7 linked regions of the Homo sapiens genome follow. The protein of the gene in region 3 purifies or fractionates together with the protein of the main gene of each other region. This does not show direct contact. Each region holds a gene or a part of one and is shown on either strand. Other genes may lie near its edges. The genes, in order: SCPEP1, SCAND3, ZSCAN21, ARL8A, FRAS1, ZMYM4 and LRP1B.

The links.
Region 1: the proteins of ZSCAN21 (region 3) and SCPEP1 purify together in Homo sapiens (co-immunoprecipitation; one large-scale study listed by IntAct). This does not show direct contact.
Region 2: the proteins of ZSCAN21 (region 3) and SCAND3 purify together in Homo sapiens (affinity purification with mass spectrometry; one large-scale study listed by BioGRID and IntAct). This does not show direct contact.
Region 4: the proteins of ZSCAN21 (region 3) and ARL8A purify together in Homo sapiens (affinity purification with mass spectrometry; one large-scale study listed by BioGRID and IntAct). This does not show direct contact.
Region 5: the proteins of ZSCAN21 (region 3) and FRAS1 purify together in Homo sapiens (affinity purification with mass spectrometry; one large-scale study listed by BioGRID and IntAct). This does not show direct contact.
Region 6: the proteins of ZSCAN21 (region 3) and ZMYM4 purify together in Homo sapiens (affinity purification with mass spectrometry; one large-scale study listed by BioGRID and IntAct). This does not show direct contact.
Region 7: the proteins of ZSCAN21 (region 3) and LRP1B purify together in Homo sapiens (affinity purification with mass spectrometry; one large-scale study listed by BioGRID and IntAct). This does not show direct contact.

The regions. Positions count from the first base shown.
Region 1 is NC_000017.11:56,998,631-57,002,130, reverse strand, and holds part of SCPEP1 (retinoid-inducible serine carboxypeptidase precursor), read right to left. Parts: intron 1,277-3,500; coding exon 1,139-1,276; intron 114-1,138; coding exon 1-113. UniProt on the Homo sapiens protein: May be involved in vascular wall and kidney homeostasis.
Region 2 is NC_000006.12:28,580,799-28,584,298, forward strand, and holds part of SCAND3 (SCAN domain-containing protein 3), read right to left. Parts: intron 1-3,500.
Region 3 is NC_000007.14:100,056,274-100,059,773, reverse strand, and holds part of ZSCAN21 (zinc finger and SCAN domain-containing protein 21), read right to left. Parts: intron 2,864-3,500; 5' UTR 2,768-2,863; coding exon 2,369-2,767; intron 2,077-2,368; coding exon 1,884-2,076; intron 1-1,883. UniProt on the Homo sapiens protein: Strong transcriptional activator. Plays an important role in spermatogenesis; essential for the progression of meiotic prophase I in spermatocytes.
Region 4 is NC_000001.11:202,141,938-202,145,892, forward strand, and holds the start of ARL8A (ADP-ribosylation factor-like protein 8A), read right to left. Parts: upstream 2,801-3,955; 5' UTR 2,636-2,800; coding exon 2,513-2,635; intron 1-2,512. UniProt on the Homo sapiens protein: Plays a role in lysosome motility. In neurons, mediates the anterograde axonal long-range transport of presynaptic lysosome-related vesicles required for presynaptic biogenesis and synaptic function. May play a role in chromosome segregation.
Region 5 is NC_000004.12:78,536,323-78,539,822, reverse strand, and holds part of FRAS1 (extracellular matrix organizing protein FRAS1 isoform 1 precursor), read right to left. Parts: intron 2,829-3,500; coding exon 2,623-2,828; intron 530-2,622; coding exon 383-529; intron 1-382. UniProt on the Homo sapiens protein: Involved in extracellular matrix organization. Required for the regulation of epidermal-basement membrane adhesion responsible for proper organogenesis during embryonic development. Involved in brain organization and function.
Region 6 is NC_000001.11:35,418,709-35,422,558, forward strand, and holds the end of ZMYM4 (zinc finger MYM-type protein 4), read left to right. Parts: intron 1-761; coding exon 762-969; 3' UTR 970-3,350; downstream 3,351-3,850. UniProt on the Homo sapiens protein: Plays a role in the regulation of cell morphology and cytoskeletal organization.
Region 7 is NC_000002.12:140,350,017-140,353,516, forward strand, and holds part of LRP1B (low-density lipoprotein receptor-related protein 1B precursor), read right to left. Parts: intron 3,057-3,500; coding exon 2,937-3,056; intron 1,023-2,936; coding exon 781-1,022; intron 1-780. UniProt on the Homo sapiens protein: Potential cell surface proteins that bind and internalize ligands in the process of receptor-mediated endocytosis.

The sequences.
Region 1 (3,500 bases), on a different chromosome or scaffold from region 3:
GACAAAAGCAGATGTTTCCAAAGATTTAGGGTCACTGTACAGGGCCTTCCACTTCAGCTGACTGAATTTAGGCAGTTCTGGCCACTTCAGTTTCCGCACCCAGGCCTCCTGACCTGGTGAGAAGGACAAAGAGAAAGGCCTGGCATTAACAGCTGGATAGAATAGGAAAAAAGTCTAGGTCCTAAAAGTTGGTGCTTCCCAAACTGCAATATGCATGAAACTCACTCAGGATCTTGTTAAAATGCAAATTCTGATTCAGAAGATCAGGGTAGGGCCTGAGCATCTGCATTTCTGACTCCCAGTGAAACCTAGGCTGCTGGGAGAAACCTAACAGCTGCAAAGCCTGACTGATTTTGCCTCTGCATCTCTCACCGCCATCTGCTCTTTAGGAAGGGAACTGGGGACCTCTGGAGGCAGACAGGCCTGTGAGGAGGACTGAGAGATGTCGTGAACGAGATAGTGATAAGGATCACCTGGGATGTTCATCGAGAAATGCAGCAGCTTTCCAAATTGTCCTTGGTGTCTCTTGTTTACCCATCACAAAAATATTCAATCCTTCTGGTTCACGAGGCGTGTCACATCCGTCAGACCTTGTGCCTCAATTACCCTGCCAGTTCAGAGAACCTGTCTCTGAGCCTCCACCAGGCCCTATTTAATTTGGAAGTGAGCAAATTAAACAGGTGGTAGGTGATAGGGCAGGAGTCAGGATTCCACAAAGACCATTTCCCCTGGGTCTTCAGGGTTACAGTCATTAGGGTTTAGTTTTAATTCACTCTGCAGTGGTCAACATCGACTGTGATGTCGCACAAAAATGAGGCTCTCCCTTAATTAAACAGCGCATTTGCCCAATAACCAGGAAAATGTCTAAGTTTTGTGGTAGAGACAGGTGGTGTTCTTTTCTTTAATCATACCTAAGGGCCCCCAAACCCAGGTAGGCTCAGGCTTCTGAGGGGTCACAGCCACGTGCAGCTCCCCACCCTTTGAATAATCAAGGTCGGGGTAGACGGATGTAATGGGAAATGGCCTTCCACCTGGCATTTCAACATCACCCACCGCAAGACTGACATGTCCAAGGCCAGTTCCCTTCCAGTTGAACCCATAAAACTGCCTCTAGGTGCCTCTCAGAGTCAATTCCTACCCATGGTATCTACGATGAGATCCAGCTGTCCATTATACACCGTCACGTTGATCCCTGCCTCCAGCAACTCGTCCACAATGCTAATGACTGGCTTCATGAAGTCCTCCTCCATGTTCACAAAGACGTTGGTAGCCTGGCCTGCACATGGGGAAGGAGAAAGAGGGAGTAGCTTGGAATCTGCCAAAACAGGAGGTACCTTTCAGCCCAGAGCATCTTGGGCTCCAGCACCGAACAACGACTGAATGCACAGATGCTTCACAAACAGGGATGAACCAGCCCAGAAATTTGTGCCGACTGGTCAGGTGTAAGGCACACATAAATAGCACATGTGGTCCATTCTCTTGAGAGCTTGTGATGACAGCAGGCACCATTTTTAATGAGGAATTGACACCTGGAATAGGCTACTGTCCAAGGAAACAGGGAGGGAGAGGCCCAGGAAATACTCATTAGGCTGGTACACTCAGGGAATAAATTGTGCTTTGGGCCAATGTCAGTTTTCCTGTTTTTTTGAGTAACACCAGGGCCAAGTTTCAAGTTCTGAACAGGTAGGCCTACCTTATAATAAACCAGATCAAACCTAAACCAATTCAGAGCTGGCCCTCAGGAAAGCCAAATGAATAACAAGCCCCAGGCAAGAGAGGAGCTAGTACTCTTGCTAGCTCCTGCCCATCAGCATTATCCTAACACTGAATGACAGCAATAAGAGTGGCAGCCACCATTATTTGCTAGTCACTGCCAAGGAGGCATCTGACAAGCAACATCCCATTTTCTTCTTCATTACCTTGGGAGATAAGAAGTCTTCTTTTAAAAAAATTTAATTTTTATTTATTTATTTACTTATTTGAGACAGAGTCTCACCCTGTCACCCAGGCTGGAGAGCGGGGGCACAATCTCAGCTCACTGCAGCCTCTACCTCCCAGGCTTAAGCGATCCTCCCACCTCAGCCTCCCAAGTAGCTGAGACTACAGATGCACACCACCACGCCCAGCTCTTTTTTTTTTTTTTTTTTTTAGACAGAGTTTCACTCTTATTGCCCAGGCTGGAGTGCAATGGCACAATCTTGGCTCACCGCAATCTCTGCCTCTCGGGTTCAAGCGATTCCCCCACCTCAGCCTCCCAAGTAGCTGGGATTACAGGCATGTGCCACCTCACCCAGCTAATTTTGTATTTTTAGTAGAGACAGGGTTTCTCCATGTTGGTCAGGCTGGTCTCGAACTCCCGACCTCAGGTGATCCGCCCACCTTGGCATCCCAAAATGCTGGGATTACAGGCGTGAGCCACCACACCCGGCCACACCCAGCTCTTTTCATTTGAGCTAATTTTTCTTCATTTCTAAAATTCTCCCAGCACTCAGGAGTAATGAAAAAACCAGGGATGGAATGAGACCTCTGGTGACTGCAGGTTGGGAGAGGAGGGCCCATGTCCCCTGAGAAAGCTCCCAGCAGCAGCAAATCGTAGGCTCCCAGCAGCAGCCGCAGGACCACTGACCCCATATCCTTGGGGTATCTTGAACACACATGAAACAAAACCCTCTTAGGTTTGGAGTATTTTCCCTTCAGAAACCTGAGATCTCTGCTTGCTCAAGGCCTCCCTATAGGACTAAAGTAGGAACTTAACCAAGATTTCTACCTGGCCCTGGTCTCTAAGGATTTCATTATTTCCTCACCATGGCCTTGAGACCAGAACGCAGTAATGCCTGGCCATATCCAGCATCAGGATGCCTGGGGAGGTCAGCAAGAGAGAGCTGGTCAAAATCTGCCCGAGCACCTGGGTGTCTCTGACATCCTGCAAGGACCTTTGGCGCGAAATCTCATCTGCAACCAACTGTGGCCTTCGATGTAGCTTTTTTATCTTAATTTTTTATTATGGAAAATTTCAAATGGATAGAAAGGAGAAGCATACAATGCTCCGATGTACCCATACCAGGCTTCAACAATTATTAACTCACAACCAATTACACATTATTTCCCTCCCCACTCAGCTCCCTACCAACTCCTTATTTTGAATCAATTTTGATGTCTTTTTTTTCCCCTTTTTAAGAAACAGGGTTTCTCTCTGCTGCCCAGGCTGGAGAGCAGTGGCATAATCATAGCTCACTGTACCCTCAAACTCCTGGGTTCAAGCAATCCTCCCACCTCAGCCTCCCAAGTAGTTAGAACTATATGCCACATGCCACCATGCCCAGCTAATTTTTCTATTTTTTTAAAGAGATGGGGCTTTACTATGTTGCTTAATTGTGGCCTCAAGCAATCCTCTCAACTCAGTCTCCCACAGTGGTGGGATTATAGGCGTGAGCCACTGCATCCAGCCCTGACAAGTCATTTACTGTCTCTGTATCTATTTGCTCACCTACAAAACGTGG
Region 2 (3,500 bases), on a different chromosome or scaffold from region 3:
CCCACCCCCCCAAGCACAAACACAAATCTAGTCTCTTGATTCCTCTACTTTTCCACCAGCTGGACTAGACCAAAATGGGTGGGCCTGGTCTTAGAACCGGGAGGAACTCCACTTCTGCCTCTACCACAGAAGTTTGAAGAGTACCTTGGGTAGTGGTAATAAATTACAAAACTGAAGTTACTTCAAACTGGTCATGACAGTCATTAGTCTTTCAGTATTCAATTCCTGGGTTTGATTTTTTTTAACGCTGGAAAGAAGCTGAGTGCAGTAGCTGACATCTGTAATCTCAGCACTTTGGGAGGCCGAGGTGGGAGGATTGCTTGAGCTCAGGAATTCGAGACCAGCCTGGGCAACATAGTGAAACCTCATCACTGCCCAAAATACAAAAAATTAGCCAGGCATGGTAGCACATATCTGTGGTCCCAGCTACTCAGGAGGCTGAGGAAGGCAGATTGCTTGAGCCTGGGAGGTGGAGGTTGCAGTGAGCCAAGATCGTGCCACTGCCCTCCAGCCTGGGTGACAGAGTGAGATTCCATCTCAAATAAATAAATAAAAATGCTGGAAAGAAACTTTTGGTTGTAATATGGTAGAGTAAATATTGCTGTGTTCATTAGAAATGCACATATTTCCAATAAATTCGAACATCTAACTTACAGTGGCACAAACAAATAGGGGTTTATTTTTGTTACATAACAAGAAGCCTAGAAGAAGGTAGTTGCTGGCACCAACTCATTTATCTAACAGTTTTTCAGGGACCCTAGCTGTCTTCATATTTCTGCTCTGTCACTTTTAACACTAGCATTTGGCCTCATGCTTACCATCACTTAATGGTCAGAAGATGGCCAGATATCATATTAGTGTTCAAGACTGGAAGTGAGAAAAGGTGAAACTAAAGTAATCTCCCCTATCCTATCAGGAAAATAAAAGCTTCCCCAGGAACCTCCTCCCCGAAATATGCTTATTTCTCCCTGGCCAGAATTCTGTTGCATAGTTAACTCTAGAACAAGGAAGCCTGGAAAAGAATTTAATTAGATATATTGCCAGTATGAACAAAACCAACATTTTGTCGGGAGGAAAGAAGGGTAGAATAGACACTGGGTTGGCAGCTAAAAGTGTCTGCCAGTGGTATTTCCCCTGTGGGGGAAATCACACAAAAACAAGAAAAATGAGAAACATTTATACAAACTTGATATTCAACAACACTAAGAGATATTTATAACTCTGACCACATTAAAAAAACTATCAAACATGATCAGCGTATAACCTGAACAATACCCAAGGAACTGACCAAACACCAAGTCCTACCAGAAGCTACATTTTTCAACAAAGCTAGAAGGGGAAATTTTAAAGCAAGCTTATCCACCCTGCAGCCTGCAGGCCACTTGCAGCCCAGGACAGTTCTGAATGTGGCCCAACACAATCTTGTAAACTTTCTTAAAACATTGTAAGATTGTTTTGTGATTTTTTTTAAGCTCATCAGCAATCGTTAGTGTTAGTGTATTTTAGTGTGGCCCAAGACAATTATTCTTCCAATATGGCCCAGGGAAGCCAAAAGATTGGATACCCCTATTCTAAAGTAACAGGCATATCTTAAGGGGGAAAAAAACTACAGTATTTGTTATTTAAAGCAAAGAGAAAAGGGTGTGCTGACTAGACGTGAGAAACTGCTTATATAGGCATTTGTGCTGCAACATAACATATGAATGTATTAAAAAAACATGCTTTCTGCAAAACTGCAGAAAAGTGACAGGATTTATGGGGAAAATACGGTTAAAGGGTGGACTATTTTAACACCTACACAACTTTGTCACTAGAGCATTATTAAAACTATAACAACTCCCGGCTGGCGCACGGTGGCTCACGCCTGTACTCCCAGCACTTTGGGAGGCTGACGCGGGCGGATCATGAGATCAAGAGATCGAGACCATCCTGGCCAACATGGTGAAGCCACGTCTCTACTAAAAATACAAAAATTAGCTGGGCGTGGTGGCGCTTGCCTGTAAATCCCAGCTACTTAGGAGGCTGAGGCAGGAGAATCGCTTGTACCAGGGAGGCAGAGGTTGCAGTGAGCCAAGATCCTGCCACTGCACTCCTGCCTGGGGACAGAGTGAGACTCCGTCTCAAAAAATAAAAATAAAAATAAAATAAAATAAAAAACACTATAAAAACTCTAGTAAAAATATAAGACATTAATAAATCTTACTTTAAGTATAGGATTTTACCTTAGAAAGGTGATGTTATCTTGTTAGAAACAAGTGTGAGGAAAGGGGGGGCAAGGGTGGAAGGATATAATCATCAAAAATTCAAAGGTGGGTCGGGCACGGTGGCTCACGCCTGTATTCCCAACACTTTGGGAGGCCGAGGTGGGCGGATCACGAGGTCAGGAGACTGAGACCATCCTGGTTAACACGGTGAAACCTCGTATCTACTAAAAATTAGCCGGGCGTGGTGGCGGGCGCCTGTAGTCCCAGCTACTCGGGAGGCTGAGGCAGGAGAATGACTGAACCCCGGAGGCAGAGCTTGCAGTGAGCCGAGATCGTGCCACTACACTGCAGCCCAGGGGACAGAGCGAGACTCTGTCTCAAAACAAACAAACAAACAAACAACAACAACAACAATTCAAAGGTGGAAAGATATAATCATCAAAAATCCAAGTGAAGACGCTTGAACATTTGATGTTATATTCTTCCACCCTTGGATATAGTGATACTACAAGAAACATGATGTGGGTTCCCGTTTATCATCTTGTTTTTATTTATTTGACACTGGCTTATAAAAAGATACCCAGTGTTTGCTGTTTTAACACTTTCCTTCTTTCATAAAGAAGCTGTTTATATGGGTCCAATTAGGGCTTTATGTCATGAAGTGAAATCATGCTGCGTTCTGCATTGTAGTCATTATCTTTTATCTACTCCAACTGCTTCTCTATCATACTTGAAGCAGAAGATAACTGAGAAGTGAAAAGCTCTTGGGAGGCAGCTTGTAGCTTGTGGAACTGCATGTTCTTCTTCCTCCACACCTTCCATTTGTGCCTCAGCAACTAACTTGCAGCTCTTCTGTAGAAAGATCCTGTGTGTCAGATTGCAGCAGCTCCGCATTATCCTCACTAGCAACTTCTTCAAATCCAACCCCCTTTGCAAGAGCGATACAGCTTGGGTTGGTTTTGGGGAGATCTTCTGAAGGCTCAAAGGCTTTGGAATCATAAATTAAATCAGGGAGAATTGTATATCACACCCCGTGCAAACAGGCTTTTGTGAAATCATTCCAGGCCTCTACAATAATATCAATAATAAGTTTAATGTTGAATCATTTACAGAATTCAAAAAATGTTAGGGCACTGTCACCCCCTGTATAGGCAACCAATATCTTGAATGTTTGCTTTAAATAATAAGCTTTAAAGATTGCAATCACACCATGATTAAGGGGCTGCAGTAAAGAAGTTGTATTGGGAGGTAAAATGAGAACTGTGATATTTGAGGAAAGCTCAGTGACTACTGGAG
Region 3 (3,500 bases):
AGCGCCACTGCACTCCAGCCTGGGCAACAAGACCGAAACTCTGTTTTTTTAAAAAGAGCTGGGCGTGGTGGTGTGCACCTGTAGTTCCAGCTACTCGGGAGGCTGAGGCAGGAGAATCTCTTGAACCTGGGAGGCAGAGGTTGCACTGAGCCGAGATTGCATAAATGCACTCCAGCCTAGCAACAGAGGGAGACTCCGTCTCAAAAAAAAAAAAAAAAAAAAGACTTTATGCAAAGCTTTCACAGCCAACTTCCCTTTCCTTAGGAGGGCCCAGCAGCTTTGTCTTCTGTCCCATCTGGGTACTAAAACCCAAGCCTGTTCCTGGCTCTGATAATCCTTCCACTCCACCCTCCTCTTTGTGTAATACTGCCAAGGGGCTACACCAAGAGATATGGAAAATAAAACTGACCAGATAGGTCTCCGGCTATTTTTATCTCTAATTACTGTGGCAACTCTGGGGAAACCCCAATTGCCTGGAGAGGTCTACTGTGTTCACCATAAACCATGAAGAATTTAGCTAACAGTTTAATTTTTTACTTTTCCTAGAAAATGTGATTTTTAACCGGCTCGAAACTCTGTTTCCATGATGGAGTTTCACGTTTCAGACACAGCAAGCATGGAGGGAGATTTCTGAGGGCCATGGACTCTTGTCATGAAATCACACCACACACATAAATAGTGGTCTACACCACCAACACGTAAGCAAAGTCCTGGTTTGAAACTATTAGGATTTGGAATAATATGCCATATTTTTGCAAACATATAATTAAACATTAACTCTGTTTCAAAGATTTAGTTCTAATCCTTCTGGTAAATGAAGGTACTTAAGAGTAGAACCCATAAAATAACAAAATAACATAGGGCCAGCTTGGGCAACATAGTGAGACCCTGTCTGTACAAAAAAATAAAGTTAGCCAGACATGGTGGTCCCAGCTACTTGGGAGGCTGAGGTGGGAGGATCATTTGAGCCCCAGAGATTGAGGCTGCAGTGAGCTATGATCACGCCACTGCCCTCCAGCCTGGATGACGGATGGAATCCCTGTCTCAGAAAAACACACAAAAACACCCCCACAGGGGATGACCATTTATGGCCTGAGATTATTCTATAAACCATAATATATGGAGATTTGAGCTCAGGAGTAGTCACCTAATACAGCTTTGACTTGTGAAAAATGCCCCACCTCTTTCCATAGCTTCAGAAAGGAGGTTGCCAATTATTTCCCATTTGCCCTTCTCAGATCCATTCTCTGACCCGCCCTGTGCCCCAGGAAGCTGACCCTAAGGGCTGCACTGTCTTGTCTTTCCTGCCCTCTGGCTGCCAACTGAGTTTGTCATTGGGGAACAAAAGCAGGAGATTTAAGGGCAGGAGGAGGGTGCAGTTGGGGTATTTATTCCGTTTTCTCCTCATCCCACAGCAGGGCCTACAGCCACAACTTCTATCAAGTGACCCCCTCCTCCATGACTATAGCTCTTACCTGATTCTGGTAAGAGGGTCCCCCTCTGTCCCTTTAGGCTCACAGGGAGTAACAGCTTTTCACTGTTGTCTGGTGCAACACTATTCCTTATTGGTTCATTTGAAGTCTCTACACCTCTGTTAACAGTTTCTTTTTTAAACTCATTTCAATTGACCCTTTAAAAAAAATTATTTGTAATACTCAGACTTCAAAGAGAAACTGATCCTTTAAGAGTGATCCATTCCCATGCTAGGGCCCAGGTTAAGACAGCCTTACTTGGGGGAGGAAAGGGGACTATTTCCACCCAGTCAGCCCAACTAATCAAGTCAATCTATGAAATCACCTCACAACCAAGAATTACTAATTATTCTGCTTCTCCAACCACAGGGGCCTGGGGCACTGAATAGGAGTCTAATGGGTGGTCCTCACCTCGGACCTTTCTTGGATCTTGAGCGAACTCCTGCTCCTCACCAGACTCTTGGATGTACAGGGGCCCCCAAGACTCGTATTTGTGACTGGTCTCCAAGGGCTGTGGCTGCATGCTGCTCGGGGATTCCTTTGCAGTTCCTGAGGAGGATATCTTCTCCCACACCGGTTTCTGTTCGTTTGGAGGAGTTGAGACCTAGAGACAATCAGGAATGGCTAGGTTTGTGCATGGCTCACTTTAAGACCAAGAATGAAAATCCCAGTAGAGCTACATAGAACCTCTAGGAAAGAGAAAAGGAAAACACCCATCCCATTCCATTCCCAAGGCTAAAAGTTAGTTTAGGATGATAGAGAAAAATAGGAGGAAACAAGGTCTAATTCAGCAGAAATTTCCATTCAGCAAATCTTAATGTATGGACAAACCCTTGTTCCTGCCTAGAATGTTACGCTCCCAATCTCCTAGAATAACAAAGGTCTCTCCTGCCTACCTGGTGTCCTGGCTCATCCAGTTCCCGCTCCAGATCTTCGAGGAGAGTGACAGCCTCTTCAGCGCTCTCCGGGCAATGCTCCTGCACCCAGGCCTGGAGCTCCTGGGGCAGGATGGTCAGGAACTGCTCCAGCACCAGTAGCTCCAGGATCTGCTCCTTGGTGTGGATCTCGGGCCTCAGCCACTCACAGCAGAGCACCCGGAGTTGGCTCAGGGCCTCTCGGGGTCCAGGGGTATCATGGTACCCAAACTGCCTGAAGCGCTGGCGGAACATCTCCAGGCTAGGAAGGTACTTGCCTTTCTCTTCTTTCTCCTCGACTTTTACCATCAGAGGCCCCACCTGCTCCTGTGGAGGCCTAGGGCCCAGAACTGGGGCCATGCCTAGTACCTTGGTCATCATGTAAACTCCAGAAACAGCCTCACCAAAGATGGGACTCTGTGGGGCAGGAATATTCGTTCCTTTGGGTTTCCAGTTCTTTAGGGCCACAAGTTAAACCTAAGAAAATATAGTTACCAAAAAATAATCAAACTGAAAAGTGTTTTTGGGTCTTTACAGCCATACCTTTAACACAAGAAATTGTGGAAATTATGTCCACCATAAAACTACCATACAAAAACAACTGCTCAAAATCTTTCTGGAATGAGCTGGGTACAGTGGCTCATGCCTATAATTCCAGCACTTTGGGAGGCTGAGACGGGTGGATCACATGAGGTCAGGAGTTTGAGACCAGCCTGGCCAACATGGTGAAACCCTGTCTCTACTAAAAATACAAAATTAGCCAGGCGTGGTGATGGATGCCTGTAATCCCAGCTACCTGGGAGGCTGAGGCAGGAGAATTGCTTGAACCCAGGAGGCAGAGGATACAATGAGCCAAGCCTGCGCCACTGCATTCCAGCCTGCGCAACAGAGCGAGATTCCATCTCTAAAAAAAAAAAAATCTTTCTGCAATCAGCTCAGGATATCCTACTTTGATTTCAGTGGTCTCCACTTTCCTAAAAAGTGCAATGTGGCATAATTTTAAAGTTAACTTTGCTCCAAAACTAGTTCAGAATCTCACCACTATAGATATTATAGTTTCTGAGATTTTATCAAGCTATCTACTGGCTAGATGCCATCTGTTTAAACCTAAGAC
Region 4 (3,955 bases), on a different chromosome or scaffold from region 3:
ACTCACTGCAGCCTCCGCCTCCTGGGTTCAAGCAATTCTCTTGCCTCAGCCTCCCAAGTAGCTGGGATTACAGGTGGCCACCACCATGCCTGGCTAATTTTTGTATTTTTAGTAGAGATGGGGTTTCACCATGTTGGCCAGGCTGGTCTCGAACTCCTAGCCTCAGGTGAAACCCCCACTTTGGCCTCCCAATTGCTGGGATTACAGGCGTGAGCCACCATGCCCGGCTGATGTTTCAGGTTCTTAGAAGCAGTGTATATAATTTCTTTCCAGCTCACATTAACCTGCTGAGCAGCTAGACACACTAAACTCAATTTCTATTTACAGCCAGACCTCATAGGGTGAGTAGAAAAAACCCAATGGCGAAAGATCTGAGACAAACAGAGGCCAAATGAACAGGCACAGGTAATTCAGAAATTCAGTGGTAGGCATGGGAACAGAGCCCAGGGGTCCCAACTCTTCGTTTCTTTCTGGAAGACACTCAACTGTGATTATACACGGGGTGGGCAGCAATGCCAGTGTGGTAGCCCCAGAGGATCTGAAAACACTGGAGTGACCGGGACACTGGAATTCCAACTGCAGCCCACATGGGGTGGTTTTCCTTGGGAAGCCTCTCTAAAGAAGGGAATTTAGCTTGCCTGCTCTTTTAGAATGTGCCAGCGGAAGTGGCAAATTTAAGATTAAAAAGGGGACCTTGTGGGCTGGAGATGGGGTGCTTTTCCTGTATATCACAGGAACTCTTGACCCTGGCAGGGGAATTTGGGACTCTTGGGTTCTGTTTCTGGCCTGCTATAGTCTCCAACTCTCTGGATATGATGCTGGTCTAGAGGGGGCCCTCCTGTCAAAGGCTCAACTGCAGACCCAGAAACCGAACCCACCCGGGTACCTGTGGATCCCTGTCCCAGAGCACAGCTATAGTAACACCCTGGGGAACGAGGAGATACCTAGGCCCAGCTGCATTTCTCAGACCTAAACGCCTAGAACCCAAGCCACCTAGGCCTGCAGAGTCAGGTCAGAGTCCAGGTGTTATGTGCCTGCTCTGGGAATCCAAGAGCCTAAGTCAATGCCAAGTTTAACCAGAGGGTCTCTGACCCCAAGGGCAGAGCCTAGGCAGACAGAGCCCAGGGGTGTTAGCTCCGAAAATTACTGTGCCAAAACCGCAGCATTGGCCTGAAGATCCTGCCCTGTCAGGTCAGGAGACAGGAGACACTGGGTCGAGAAAGGGCAGAGGTCATTTGCAGAGCATGTTTGGGAAAGGAAGCCAGTGTTCAATTGTGTAACCACAGGATGCCCGCCCCTCGAGCTTTCCATCTGCCTTCATGCCTCAGGTCCAATGAAGTGACGTCCCCTGCCTTCTAGGACGCTGAGAACTGTCGAGGAGGCCCATCTTCTGCAAGGTGGGGCAACAACACGGACAGGTAGAGGTACCTAGGCCGGCTGGATACATTCCTCTGCTGACCTATCTCATCAGTATCTTTGGTTACTATCTGGCCAACTCACAGTTGTGGGAAACCTCAGCTTTGGGACTGGGGCCAGGTCCCTGGACAACCCCAGCCCCTGTCCCATGCTTCCTCGACCCACAAGCCCTGTCTAGCCTGGCTCTGACAGGCAGGCCGCAGCCATTACGGCAGCCTCAGCTCACACCCATGGAGCTCATCTTCCCCTTTTTTGAGAGAGATTTTAACTCCTTCCCCACCACTCCCCTGGCGCTGAAAGACTTACAATCACCCACTTCAGTGTTGACGACCCAAAGCCCTTAGAGCCACTCTCCCAAGGCCCCAGTGGGCCGTGCCCCTACACCTCATCCTCTCTTGTCGGGAGCACCTGCTCCTGCAAACTTCTGAGCCAGACGGAGTCTCCAAACTCCCGTTACCATGCGATCCTCCCTGGACCCCCGGCTAGACACTGCGGGTCGGGGAGAAGTTGGGGAGGAGTCTGGGCTTGAGCCAAGGGCCTCAGCTGACTCCTCTACCCCGGGGGATACCTCCCCTCCCCCTCAATAGGGCCGGGGCTTCCTCTTCCGGCAAGGAGGGGTTAAGCCCTCTGGGTGGGGCTGGGCTTGCCCAAACCCCCTCCTCAAGCCTCTCGGCCGCCCCGTCCCGTGACCCTCTACCCGCGGGACAGGAAGGCCCGTGCACTTTCGCCCCGTCATGCCCCCTTGCGCGGGGGCCAGAGGGGGCCCGTCTCAGCCGGCAGCGGGTCCCTCCTGCTTCGAGAGCCCCTCGGTGCCGCCTGCCCCGTGGCACCGGCCCTGTCTGTTCGTCCCCCTTCCCCTGCCCCCAGCCGTGCAGTACCGGCCCGGGTGAGAGAGCGGGTCGCGCGCCGCCCCGGTCCCCCACGGCACGGGCCGTACTAGGCCCCAAGCGCTCGGGGCCGGCTCCTCCCCCGCCCGGCGCCCGGCCGTGCCCGGCTATGCCAGGCGGCGACCCCGGCTCAGCAGGGCGCGGCGCGGGCGGGGACAGGCCCGACCCGCGGCCCGCGCCCGGGGACCCCGCGCCCGACGCCCTCGTACCGCGATCACGTTGACGAAGGTGGTCTTGCCCGAGTACTGAAGCCCGACCAGCGTGAGCTCCATCTCCTCCTTCCAGAATAGGGCCTTGAACCAGTCCAGCAGCTTGTTGAACAAAGCGATCATGGTCGCTGCCGCCGGCCCCGCCCGGTGCCAGGTCCCCGCCGCCCCTCGCTGCCCTCGCGCTGCGGCCCGGAGCGGCCCCTCCCCGGTACGGCCCGGGTCCCGCGGCTCGGTGCGGGCGGAGGCTCGAGCGCGGCTGCCGACGACTCGCTGCCCCGGAATCGGCTCGCCGATGGGTGTGGCTTCCGCGCCCTCCTCCTCCGCCGCCGCCGCCGCCCTCCCTCGCGGCCGGGCCGTGTCCTGCTCGCACCCGAGCGCGCGCTCCTCCCTCGCTGGAGCCGGGGGGCCAGGGGCCGCACCCGCAGGTGGGGTGAGCAGGGAATCCGCAGGTGGGGTGAGCAGGGAATCCGCAGGCTTCAGCGGCGGGGGTTGACCGGCAGCTGGCGTCGAGAGGCGCTTGGGAAATGGGGTCTAATTTATTTTAGACCCTGTCCCCGACTGCCGCGCCCTGACTGGCACCCCCTTTCTTAAAGGGTGGTGGGCTCGAGGTGGGTGAGGTTCCGGTTAAGCAGGAGCCTTTTCAGGTTGAAGGAGAGTGGGTCACCCACTTCCCAGGACACGGAGATGAGATCTCTACGACAGGGAGGCAGATGGAGGCTTTTTTGTCCCTGAACCCTTGCCTCTGAGCATTCCTGGGTACAGTCCCATCCTCTCAAAATGCACCCAGTGCAGAGGGACAACCGTATTCGGGTCTTTTAATACTCCATCTTGTTTTGTTCACCACAATTTACCCCGACCACTTGTTAGGAAGCCTCTGGCCCCAAGTGAAACGGACGCTTGAACTTGCTCCGGATTTTTACCAGCATCCCCAAGATACCCAAACAGATACAGTCCTGGCAGGGGGTTTTCAGTGAGGAACGTCTGTGACAAAGGAAAATGTTGCCCTGTTTTGGTGAAAAGCAGAGTATTCTTCAGGAGGAGAAGTGATAGTTCTCCTCTTGAAGTGGGTCTGGAGTGCCTGCAAAGATGCCTTACTCCTGCCCCTCTCCTTGCAAGACCCACCCATAGGACCTGCTCAGGCAGGCTGACAACCTCAGCTGGCAGTCCCGGGTAGGCTCAGGCTTCGGGCAGTCCCCAGCCTATGCTGGCTGCCCGTTGGGGTTTGGTTTTCAAATGTAGTCATATGTAGTCTATTGTTTTAGTCAAAAGTGGGTAAACTATCAATATCAACCATATCTGTCCAATCAACTGGAGTTAGATGACCCCAAATAGTCAAACAGTTACCAAAGTAGAAGAATCACAAGGTTTCGGCTAGCATAATATTGTTTTTTTTTTTTTTTTTGATGGGGTCTCACTGTGTGGCCCAGGCTGGAGTGCAGCGGT
Region 5 (3,500 bases), on a different chromosome or scaffold from region 3:
CTATTCTAAATTGCTGTATTGTATTATGATTTTTTAAATGTTTTTCATATGTCCGTGAAAATCAGCTGGGCTAGCATAGAACCAAAAAGGGATGCAATATAAAAGAACTTAGGAAAAACTGGAGTGTCATATGCAGCCATGATGTGCACAATGACAAGTGACTATATGCAAAGTCAATAATTGTATAATTGTTTTGGTCTACTGGGGATACATGTGAAAATTTTGGGTGGGTGATAAGCTTAACAATAAGAAAAGATCTGCCAGCAAGAATGGCAGAATGTTGAAGAATCCAGAGATGTTGCAGTCCTCCTTCTTTTTTTTTTTTTTTTCAAGCTTTAAAGTAGACTTGGTCTTAAGCTTCTGTTCTTCTCACCAAACTCACCTTATAGAGTGCATCTACTTTTAGAGTAAATCCATCCACACCTGGCATGTTACTGACCACATGGAAATCAGGCAACTCAGAGGCAAAGTGAGCCTCAAAAGGCACATCATGGAAGTACTTATCAGTTACCTCTGGCTGATTGCGGTCCTAGGATTTCAGAAAAAAGAAATGCAAGATTTAGAAAGATGGTTCCACTATATTGGTAGGTGGCAGTGACTGGGAGGAGAAAAGTACTCATCACTCCTGGCTTTAGGTTGAGTTGAGAGAGTATGTGCTGTGAAGCCCTCTCCATAAGTCAGTGGCTGCCTGATATGGTTTGGCTGTGTCCCCACCAAATCTTATCTTGAATTACAGTTCCCATAATCCCCATGTGTCATGGGAGGGACCCAATAGGAAGTAATTGAATCACGGTGACAGTTACCTCTATGATGTTCTTGTGATAGTGAGTGGGTTCTCATGAGATCTGATTTTTTTTTTTTTTTTTTTTAGATGGAGTCTTGCTCTGTCGCCCAGGCTGGAGTGCAGTGGCGCGATCTCAGCTCACTGCTGGCTCCACCTCCTGGGTTCATGCCATTCTCCTGCCTCAGCCTCCGGAGTAGCTGGGACTACAGGAGCCTGCCACCACACCAGGCTAATTTTTTTGTATTTTTAGTAAAGACAGAGTTTCACTGTGTTAGCTAGGATGGTCTCAATCTCCTGACCTCGTGATCCGCCCACCTCGGCCTCCCAAAGTGCTGGGATTACAGGCTTGAGCCACCGCGCCCGGACCTCTGATGGTTTTTTAAGAGGCTTTTTCCCCTCTGCTCGGCACTTCTTGCTGCCCCTATGTGAAGAAGGATGTATTTGCTTCCCCTTCTGCTATGATTGTAAGAGGCCTCCCCAGCCATGCTGAACTGTAAGTCAATGAAACCTCTTTCCTTTATAAATTACCCAGTTACAGGCATGTCATTAGCAACATGAGAACAGACTAATACACTAACTCTGGGAACCCACTGTCCTTTTCAAAAGGACATGTGGTGGCTTTTGTGATCTCAAAATGCAAAAAGTGGGATATTCTAGCCCAATACTTCTCAAGTTATTTGGTCTCAGGACCCTTTACACACTTACAAATCAAGGACCCCAGAGAGTTTTTGTTTATGTGACTTATATCTATCGACATTTACTCGGTTAAAAATTAAACCTGAAAAAATTTTAAGTGTTTACTTATTAATTCATTTTAAACTGACAATAAGAAACTCATTACATGTTAACTTAAGTAAGATATTTTTTAGTGAAAATACCTAAATTCATTCCCTTCCTCAATAAAGAGAGCTGGCAATGTTTTACATTTTTGTAATCTCAGGGAAAAAACTGGATTCTCATAACTGCTTCTGAATTCCATCAGTTGTGATATGCTGTTTTGTCTAAAGTGTATGAAGAAAATCTGGCCTCATAAAGCTATGTAGTTAATAGCTTTTTCAAACAATTATGGCTTTTTTTTTTCTTTTTTTTTTTTGAGATAGGGTCTTGCTCTGTTGCCCAGGCTGGAGTGCAGTGGTGCAATCTTGGCTCACTGCATCCTTGACCTCCCAGTCTCAAGTGATTTTCTCACCTCAGCCTCCCAAGTAGCTGTGACTACAAGTGCATGCCACCAAGCCCAGCTAATTTTCAAATATTTTTTTGTAGATATGGGGTCTCCTTATGTTTCTCAGGCTTGTCTCAAACTCCTAAGCTTAAGTGATTCTCCCACCTCAGTGTCCCAAAATGTTGGGATTACAGGCATGAGCCACCACGCCCTGCCTCTTTTTTGATACTAAATCAAAACTTGGTGAGTGGTTATTTTTTAAAGATTCATTACAATGTGGAATCTGAAATTTTATTGATAAACTTTTTAAACTCTCTAAACTCATGAGGGAATAAGTATGAAAAAAAGAGTCATCATCATATTATTTTGAAAGTAATTTTGACTCTGTAGACTCCCTGAAAGAGTATGGGGACACTCCAGGTCTCTGAACCATACTCTGAGAAACATTGGCCGAGAGTTTCCTTTTCTGAGGACATCAATGGAAGTTTGTCTTGTTACTCATCGTAACTACCACCTATGTACTAGTATTTAGCTGATCTGAAAGAAACAACAACACAAACATATATAGAGAAGAAAATATCAAGAGTGAGCTCTATCTACTTTAGGCAGAAGTCATAGCTGAGGAAATCTGCTCAAGTGTCTGCTCTTTAACACTAATAGTGAGAACTTAGCATACCAACAGCAGGAATCTGTGTTTTAGGTGTTTGTTTGGCTGAATGCATCCATACTGGGGCCCTTCATTGTAGATTGTCCCCGTGGGATCAAAGAAAGGCACATAACCATCCTTGCCCGTACAAAGATAGACTTTCTCCAGCTGGAGTTTGTAAGCAGAATTAAGATTTTGTTCTGGATTCCAAAGTACTCGGCCATAAAGGATTTGACCTGAAAAGATTGAAAGGTATTAATTAGGTCAGACTTTAAGATGAAAGAAAAACAAATGTCAAGGGTTGAAAGGGGTTAAACATGCTCCCTTAAGAGTGAAAAGCACTTTTCTATGAAGAGCTCCATGATTCCATGTGCCCCTAAAATACTCATTCATTTATTGCTTCGTTTTTATTCTTATTTTCTTTTTTTCTCTGAGTTTTCTTGCTAGGGAACATTTATGCCTTCTTTTTTTCAATAAGCATTAATTAAGCATTTAAGGGAAGCAAAGTATTCTGTTATGCACAGGGGATACCAAGGTGTGTGAGATGCAGTTGAGAGGATGGAAACAAACTCACAGTGATTGACTAAAATAGGCTCATATTTATCAAACTCATACTATTTTCCAGGTACTGTACCAAGTCCTCTCATGTAATAACTCATGGAGTGCTCACAATTTTGCAGATGAGAAACCTGAGGCACTGAGTGGGGCTAAGTGATTTGCTGAAGGTCACAAAGCAAGCAAACGGTGAGGGTGGGATTCCAAGTCAAGGTACTATGCTCTCAAACCAAACCACCACAATACTTTATTAATCACCCAAATGCTATACTGTTACATTCCACAATAGAGGAAGGTATGTCATGTTAAGAGAGCATGAAACCAGGTACAGAAATCTGCCTAGGGAATGGTAT
Region 6 (3,850 bases), on a different chromosome or scaffold from region 3:
CATATCTATGTGGATTTTGAACCACAAAACAAATTACCTTGTCTTCATAATTATTTTATGAAAATGTCTTCAAAAGCAAGAATCACTGCTATTGTTTGATCTTTACAACTGTTGTACAACCTTTATGTGATACCTAATCTGTAGTTATTTTGTTATTTGTATAGAAAAGAAATTTTGTTTTGCTAAAGCTATAATAGAAAAACAATTTTTAAGGAATTGAAATTTTCTAAGTAGTCCTTTTCTTAGAGGAACTTTATGATTTTAGAGTTGTAACACTTTTTTTTCTGAAAGAAATGTAATAGCTTCATTTGCCCTTTGATAATGTGTATTGAGTGCCCTTGGAGTTCATTCCAGGATATTGGGCACTTCCAATATGTGGTGCTTGGCCATAGTGTCACATGTGAGTTGACTTTTTTGTTGCTCTTAATAATGTTTGAAGTACTAAAGTTTATGATTTACACTTTGTCTTATATTAACTTTATACTCACTTCCAATCCATTGTGATTTCAGTTGATTCCTGGGAGGAAATATTCCTGTAAACTATTTATCTCTGTGGGTACCTTGCTTTCCCCATTGTGAGTCACAGTGGAGAAAGGTTGAGAGCCATATTAGGTTGGTGCAAAAATAATTGCAGTTTTTGCCCTTACTTTTAATTACTTTTAATGGCAAAAACCTCAGTTTACTTAAGAATAGTACATATTTCCTATACTCTCTGATTTCTAATTTTCTTTTTTCTCTTTTTTTTTTTCCCCTGTGGATAGTTCTGAAAGTGTGAAGCAAAGGAATGATGTGTTTTACCTTCAACCTGAGCGCTCCTGTGTCCCGAATAGCCCCATGTGGTACTCCACATTCCCGATAGACCCTGGAACCCTGGACACCATGTTAACACGTATTCTCATGGTGAGGGAGGTACATGAAGAACTTGCCAAAGCCAAATCTGAAGACTCTGATGTTGAATTATCAGATTAAAACGGAAGTGAGGTTCTTATTTTCATACATATTGGTATGCACCAAACTGTGAATGCATCCAGCTGTTGGAAAATGATGTATAAGTCTAAGTCCTCTTGACTTGACCATAAGATCATGGAAAACAGATGACTTGTGAACCCCACAGTGTGGATGTGCAAATGAAAATTGAAGGAAAGAATATGAACTGAGAAATGTTCTTTGGCAGTGATATAGTTCTTAGACATCTTCAGAATGACTAATTTCTCCGAGTGGTGCATAATCTTATTTTGTTTGGGAGTAACAAATCGTGGAATATTTTTAAGGAAAACTGTTGTATAAAACTTTACCATAGTAACCTTAGACCTTAGAGAGGTAGCTTTGGAGTGAAACTTTGGCTGCAATAGGCTACTTTGGCAAGCCCTCCGTAAAAGTCAGAGGAGAGATCAGTACAGAGCTAAGAGTGACATCAAATGAGGACTGTGGGACCCAGATTTGAAGACCCAATAAAAATACTCAACTTTTTAAAAAAGATAGTGAAGTGGTCTTGATTGATTTTGATTTTCACTGCCAAGCCAATCATGTGAAGGACAGAAGCTTTTGCCATGGGCCCCTCACATCAGGGAAAATGACCTTCACTGCTGTTAACAGTAATGTGTCCCTTTCATTTTCTGGATCAAGCCTTCTCAGCGGTGGGTCTGGATGTGGGTAAACTAAGGTAAAGGGGATGATATTCCACAAACTAATTATGCACACAGAAAATCTGTGGAGCCTATCAGACCCCAAGTGTCTTGAAATGTTTGTAGAAACCCACTAAAATGCCCCTTCTCTGGGTGTGGGCCCTTATTGCAGCTGTCTCACAGCCTGAGCTGTGGTACAGAGAAATGGGGGTTCTCCTTTTATTTTCATTTTTTTTCCCCAATGGCAGCTTTTCTCCCGTTGTTTTACCTTCCTATTTCCCAAACAGTTCCTCTTATTTTGTCTTTTGCACCAGTTTCTGGAGGCCCTTGTCATTTCAAAAAGGATAGTCTCTTTTCTTACTCTGGCAAACCTGTGAGTGATTCCACAAAGATACAGTATTACTTAGCTATCTGAATTATGATAGAAAAGGTCCTAGTTAGGTTCCTATATAAAGCATTTGGAAGATGACCTTGTTGCCCTTGAAACTTGAAAATAGGGATTCTGGGGTGAGGATACAAAGACATTGTCTTGCATATCCATAAGCAGGTCTTAGAGCATTATTCCAAACTCTAGCTGTTTCAGTAGTTCTATGAGGATTGCAAGTCATAGGTGTGTGTGGCATATCAGTCCATCTCCCTCATCTCCATTCTCAGTTTCTTCCCCACAAAATTTGGAATCAAAGCTTTTATGACGTTTGCCAATTGCAGAACTTCTTCAGCTAAGGTTAATTTGACGCTATGATAAAACTGAGAGATGTCAAAAAGCCTCTTAGAAATTTTAATCTTGAAAGACTTTTCAGGGTATCTCATTTTTTAGGTGGGGGTGGCAGGTGTATTTCTTTTTTAACAAATAAAAGGCATTTAAGTAAAACTAAAATGAAAAAAGTAGGCCTTCTGACATTGTGTACTTGGTGGTTCTGTCCCTCTGCCTGTAACAAATCTCATTTTTGTTACCAAGAACTGTATGAAAGAAGTAAATCCACCCCGATTCTGTATGATTAATTCCATCTGTGTTTGTCATTTCTGACTGGAAAACTTCTTACTCCATACCTTGTTCGATATGGAGGACAAATAATTGGATTGTCTGATAAGTCTGCCAATAAACTATCCAGAAATAGCAAGTGTAATAGTCCCCACTATACGAATTTTATGGTTTGTATAAACACTAACATTTTCCCCTTCTGTAGTTGTATGAAAAAACAAATATTGTTAGCATAGTAGATAAATTGTTATGAAATACCAGAAAAAAAAATCTGTATCTTTTACTGAGAACACCCAATACCCAGATAAATGACTGTATCAGGATTTCATTTGCATGTTAGTCCACAGAGTTGCCCAGAACCCTAAATTTATTCATAAGAGAAAATATTGATTAATTATTGGTCATTCCTCATAAGTGTAGCTGTTGATGTGTGCGTCTGATTATTGCTTTTTTAATTTTATGAAAATTGTGTAAAATTACATTTTTTTTCCAGGGGAGAAAAAAACATCAAACAAAAACATCTAAATCATCCTTTTTGTTCTTTTTCAGTTTTTAACCACTTTTAGGTTTTCCCCTTACAGAAACCACAGAAATATTCCCTTAGAATAAAATAGTATATTTGTATTTGATGGGTGAGTTCTTCTTCTTTACGTCTTAAAAGAATTTGAAATCTCTTTTTCTGATTGACCTTATTGGTATGACCCAGCAATTAGTAAAATTACAAAGAAAGAGAGCAGTTTCCGAGAAAGAAATTTTTTTTATGTAGTCCAGTCAACATATTTTTTCATTGCAAGTTCTTTTATTTCCTTTTTTCCATCAAAAGACTTGTTCCCATTTTTAGCTAATTTACTGACTATATTCAAAGTCCCAACAGGTAGAAATATCAGAGATCATTTATACATATCATTTCAGGCAAACTTTTTTGAGATTTACAAAGCCTACATCAGTTCAACTTTAATGAAATTGTAAGACTAGAATAAAGGATATGTTCATTCTTAAGTATAAATACATGTTTAAAACAGGAATGTAAGACTAAATAGCATTTTCCTTCGACTTCAGAGTTGTCTTGGTATTATGCAGCTGTACTTTCAAATTCCGTATCGACTTTCTACCTACCTGCCTTGTGGCAATCCTAAATTTATAAAACAGGTTTTCCCAAAAGATCTAATGTAAAATGAATTTCTATTAATGAATTCAGAATTTAATTTTCCAAAGAAGTCTCCTAGGGTATTGAGTTGAAGTT
Region 7 (3,500 bases), on a different chromosome or scaffold from region 3:
TTTTTGTTAAACACAAAGCTTCAATTACATCCTGCTGGGACACCACTTGACTTTTTGGTTGTACAGGAATGGGCCAGGCCCTATAAAAACACATATTTATCTGTCATTTTCCTTCCAGGTTACTTAAAAATATAAAACACACAATAACTTGACATGCCCTAAAACAAAAAGGGATAATCTAATCTACAACCATAAATTGAAACATGTTCCAGTTTATTTTTTCTCAAAAACAATAACCATGATAATCAACATGTCCAGCATACACAAGTGCACAATATTTCTGTTTTGGATATTTCCTGAAATATAGTTATCAGGAGTCAGAAGAAATGGTTACACTATTGAGTTGATGTCCTGCCCTACAGTAGAAGTATATTTATGATAATGTAAGAAGAGAAATAGTTATCCCTGCATTACGCTACTTTCTAATGTAAAAATAAAGTGATGTTTCCCAATCTCATCTCATGATAAAAAAGCTTATGTTCATAATAATTGTAAAGCACTATGAAATAGATGTTCTGGAGATGTTATATGTCATTCATTAGCATTCTTATATAATAGTCAAATACATTAAAGCAAAAACATAAAAGCATGCAACTAAAATAAATCATGTACAGCTATGAGAATGAGTAGAGAAATGCATTATTTCTATTTAAGGAGAATATTGGGAGAATAATTGAATATATTACTTAGTATAATTAGATATTATATTAGATAAATTTTGTTTAAAAAGCAGGTGGGGAAAAGGTATGGACTTTCAAATATACAATGGTATTTACTTACAATCAAGCCACTGTTTGCTTGCCTTTTTTCTCTGCCATGGATCCTTTTGTAGAAAATTCCGCCTGGATTAAACTGAGTACTCCAAATAATCATATCTCTTTGATAATATACATCCATCCCTGTTATTCTTGAATTATGTTCAATATGAGAAATTTGTTGATGATCGCCACTGTAGTTGAATGGATATATAAAACCCAGGATATCAGTGTCATTAGCAATGTAGAGAACTTGATCTTCAGAGCCTGGAGATTATTATAATAAAATACAAAAATAAAGTAAATTTCAACTAATGTTAAAAGCAATAATTGTACTTTTAAATTATCTTGAATTATTATTCTTAATACAGTTTTTCCTCAAAAATCAACCAGTTTTATATTGTCTTTTAGTCTTTATGGCTTATTATTTCTGATACTCACTTATCTAAACATTTACAATAATTATTGATAGAGGTTTTTCTACTGCCAATCTTTCCTTATGGCTAGAAATTATGTACATATAAATGTCCTTTTATGAAGAGAGATTATTATTTGATAAGTCACAATACACTAGGTTATAATGCATCAATTGTCAATATCCAAGTACTATGTTGTATACTCATTAAGCTTCAAAAGTTTCTGATTACTTAATTTATGCACCTGAGTGATCATTACTTTAGGCTAAGAAATAAAAATTAAAATATGAAGAATCTTCCTCTTACTGTATTTATACATCTTAAATGCTTACTAACTTTTAACATAAAAAGATATCAGTATTTATTCCATTAAAGTTCTATAATCTCTAAATTATCTAGAATCCTGCTAAGTGTAACATTCTATTCTAAAGTTTTGACACCTACAATAGAGTACTAATGTCATTTTCATACTAACAAGTAAAACCCTAAAGCAAATGCCAAAATTATCAATTAAAATATTAACGAAGCCCTAAAGAGATGTTCGATTGCATACATAGTTTCTGCAAATAAATAATAATAATAATACCTCATGAGGTGCCTTTCAGCTCTGTAATGTTAATAGCTGTCACTTAGCAAATGCTTATTATGTGTCAGACGCTATGTTAAGCCTTTCACAGTTTATCTCCACTTCTTATAACTATGGAAACTGAACTGAGGCTCTGACACTTTAGTGAATTCCTTGAGGCCACACAGTCTAAAAGGTGCTGTGCTGGGATTCAAATCCAAGCATATCAAATGCTATAGCCCACAGTTGATCCATTACATCATCCTGTTTTCTTCTTGTAATAACAATCTTAATAATGTCCAATCATACTTTGTAGCCAACAATATTGAAGTTACAGTATTATTTAGCATAAACACATGAATATTAAAATCTATACCTACAATTGCCCAGAACCCTAGTTTATCATTTAATCTTTTTTTGTTTGTTTGTTTTTCTTTTTTTGAGATGGAGTCTTGCTCTGTCACCCAGGCTGGAGTTCAGTGGCGCAATCCTGGCTCACTGCAACCTCTGCCTCCTGGGTTGAAGCGATTCTCCTGCATCAGCCTCCCAAGTAGCTGGGACTACAGGTGTGTACCACCACGCCTGGCTAATTTTTGTAGTTTTAGTAGAGACGGGGTTTCACCATGTTGGTCAGGTTGTTCTTGAACTCCTGATCTCGTGATCCACTCGCCTTGGCCTCCCAAGGTGCTGGGATTACAGGCATGAGCCACTGCACCAGGCCTATCATTTAATCTTTTTAAAAAATAATATTGGTAAGTGGAGGACTTCTAAATTTGAAAGCAAGATCTTGTTTTAAAACCTTTAAAATCCTTACTCAAAATTCCTTTCTCCTTATAATGCTAATGTTTATTTTTATCCCTGGGGTATAATTTTTCTCATATTCCCTTAGAGCAGACCATCAAGAGAGATACTTCACATTCTATCACACTGGCTTTTAAAATTTTACCCCTTTTGAAAAATTGTTTTGAACACAATGACACAATGTGATTTTAACAGTAACCATATATTTCATAGTCATTTCCATAAACCATCTAAGATTAAATTCATTAATATTAACTAACCAACTGGCCAAATTAATCATCATTAAAAGTATTTTATCAGAAATGAAGCTGTTGCTGGAATGAAATATAAAACATTTTTCTCCATAAAATGTTTACAACAAAATTGTAATAGGATTTGCAATAGTGGTTATAATCTTACCTTCTGCTATGCAGGTGTTATTTCTTTCTTGAAAATTCTGGTCACACACACATTTATATGATCCTTCCACATTTATACATTGATGGGAACATGTGCCAAACACCAAACATTCATTAAGGTCTAGAAAAGAAGAGCTCAAAATAGCATCATCATACCCTCAATTCAGACTCCTATTCTTACCACGTTTCAAAAAAGCCAAAATTATTTTTAACTTATTACTAGCTTTATTGTCCTTTCACATCTTTAATCTGTGACCTGCTGTGTCATATTTTTGAAGGTATAATCATTTTTCACAATATTTGTAGTAGAAGATTTATCAATTGTCATTGCTTTTATTAATCCACTTAAAATATTAAAGCTTCAATTTCAAACTTCCCTGGGGCTTTCTTTTTTCTTTCTTAAAATTTTTACTTATTTATTTTTTTACCTTTTAAGTTCATGGATACAAGTGCAGGTTTGCTACCTAGATAAACTTGTGCCATGGGGGTTTGTTGTATAGATTTCCATTCACGCAAATAGACCTGTCTTGAGGTTTTCTTTTAAGCTGTTTCTGATGACCTACCT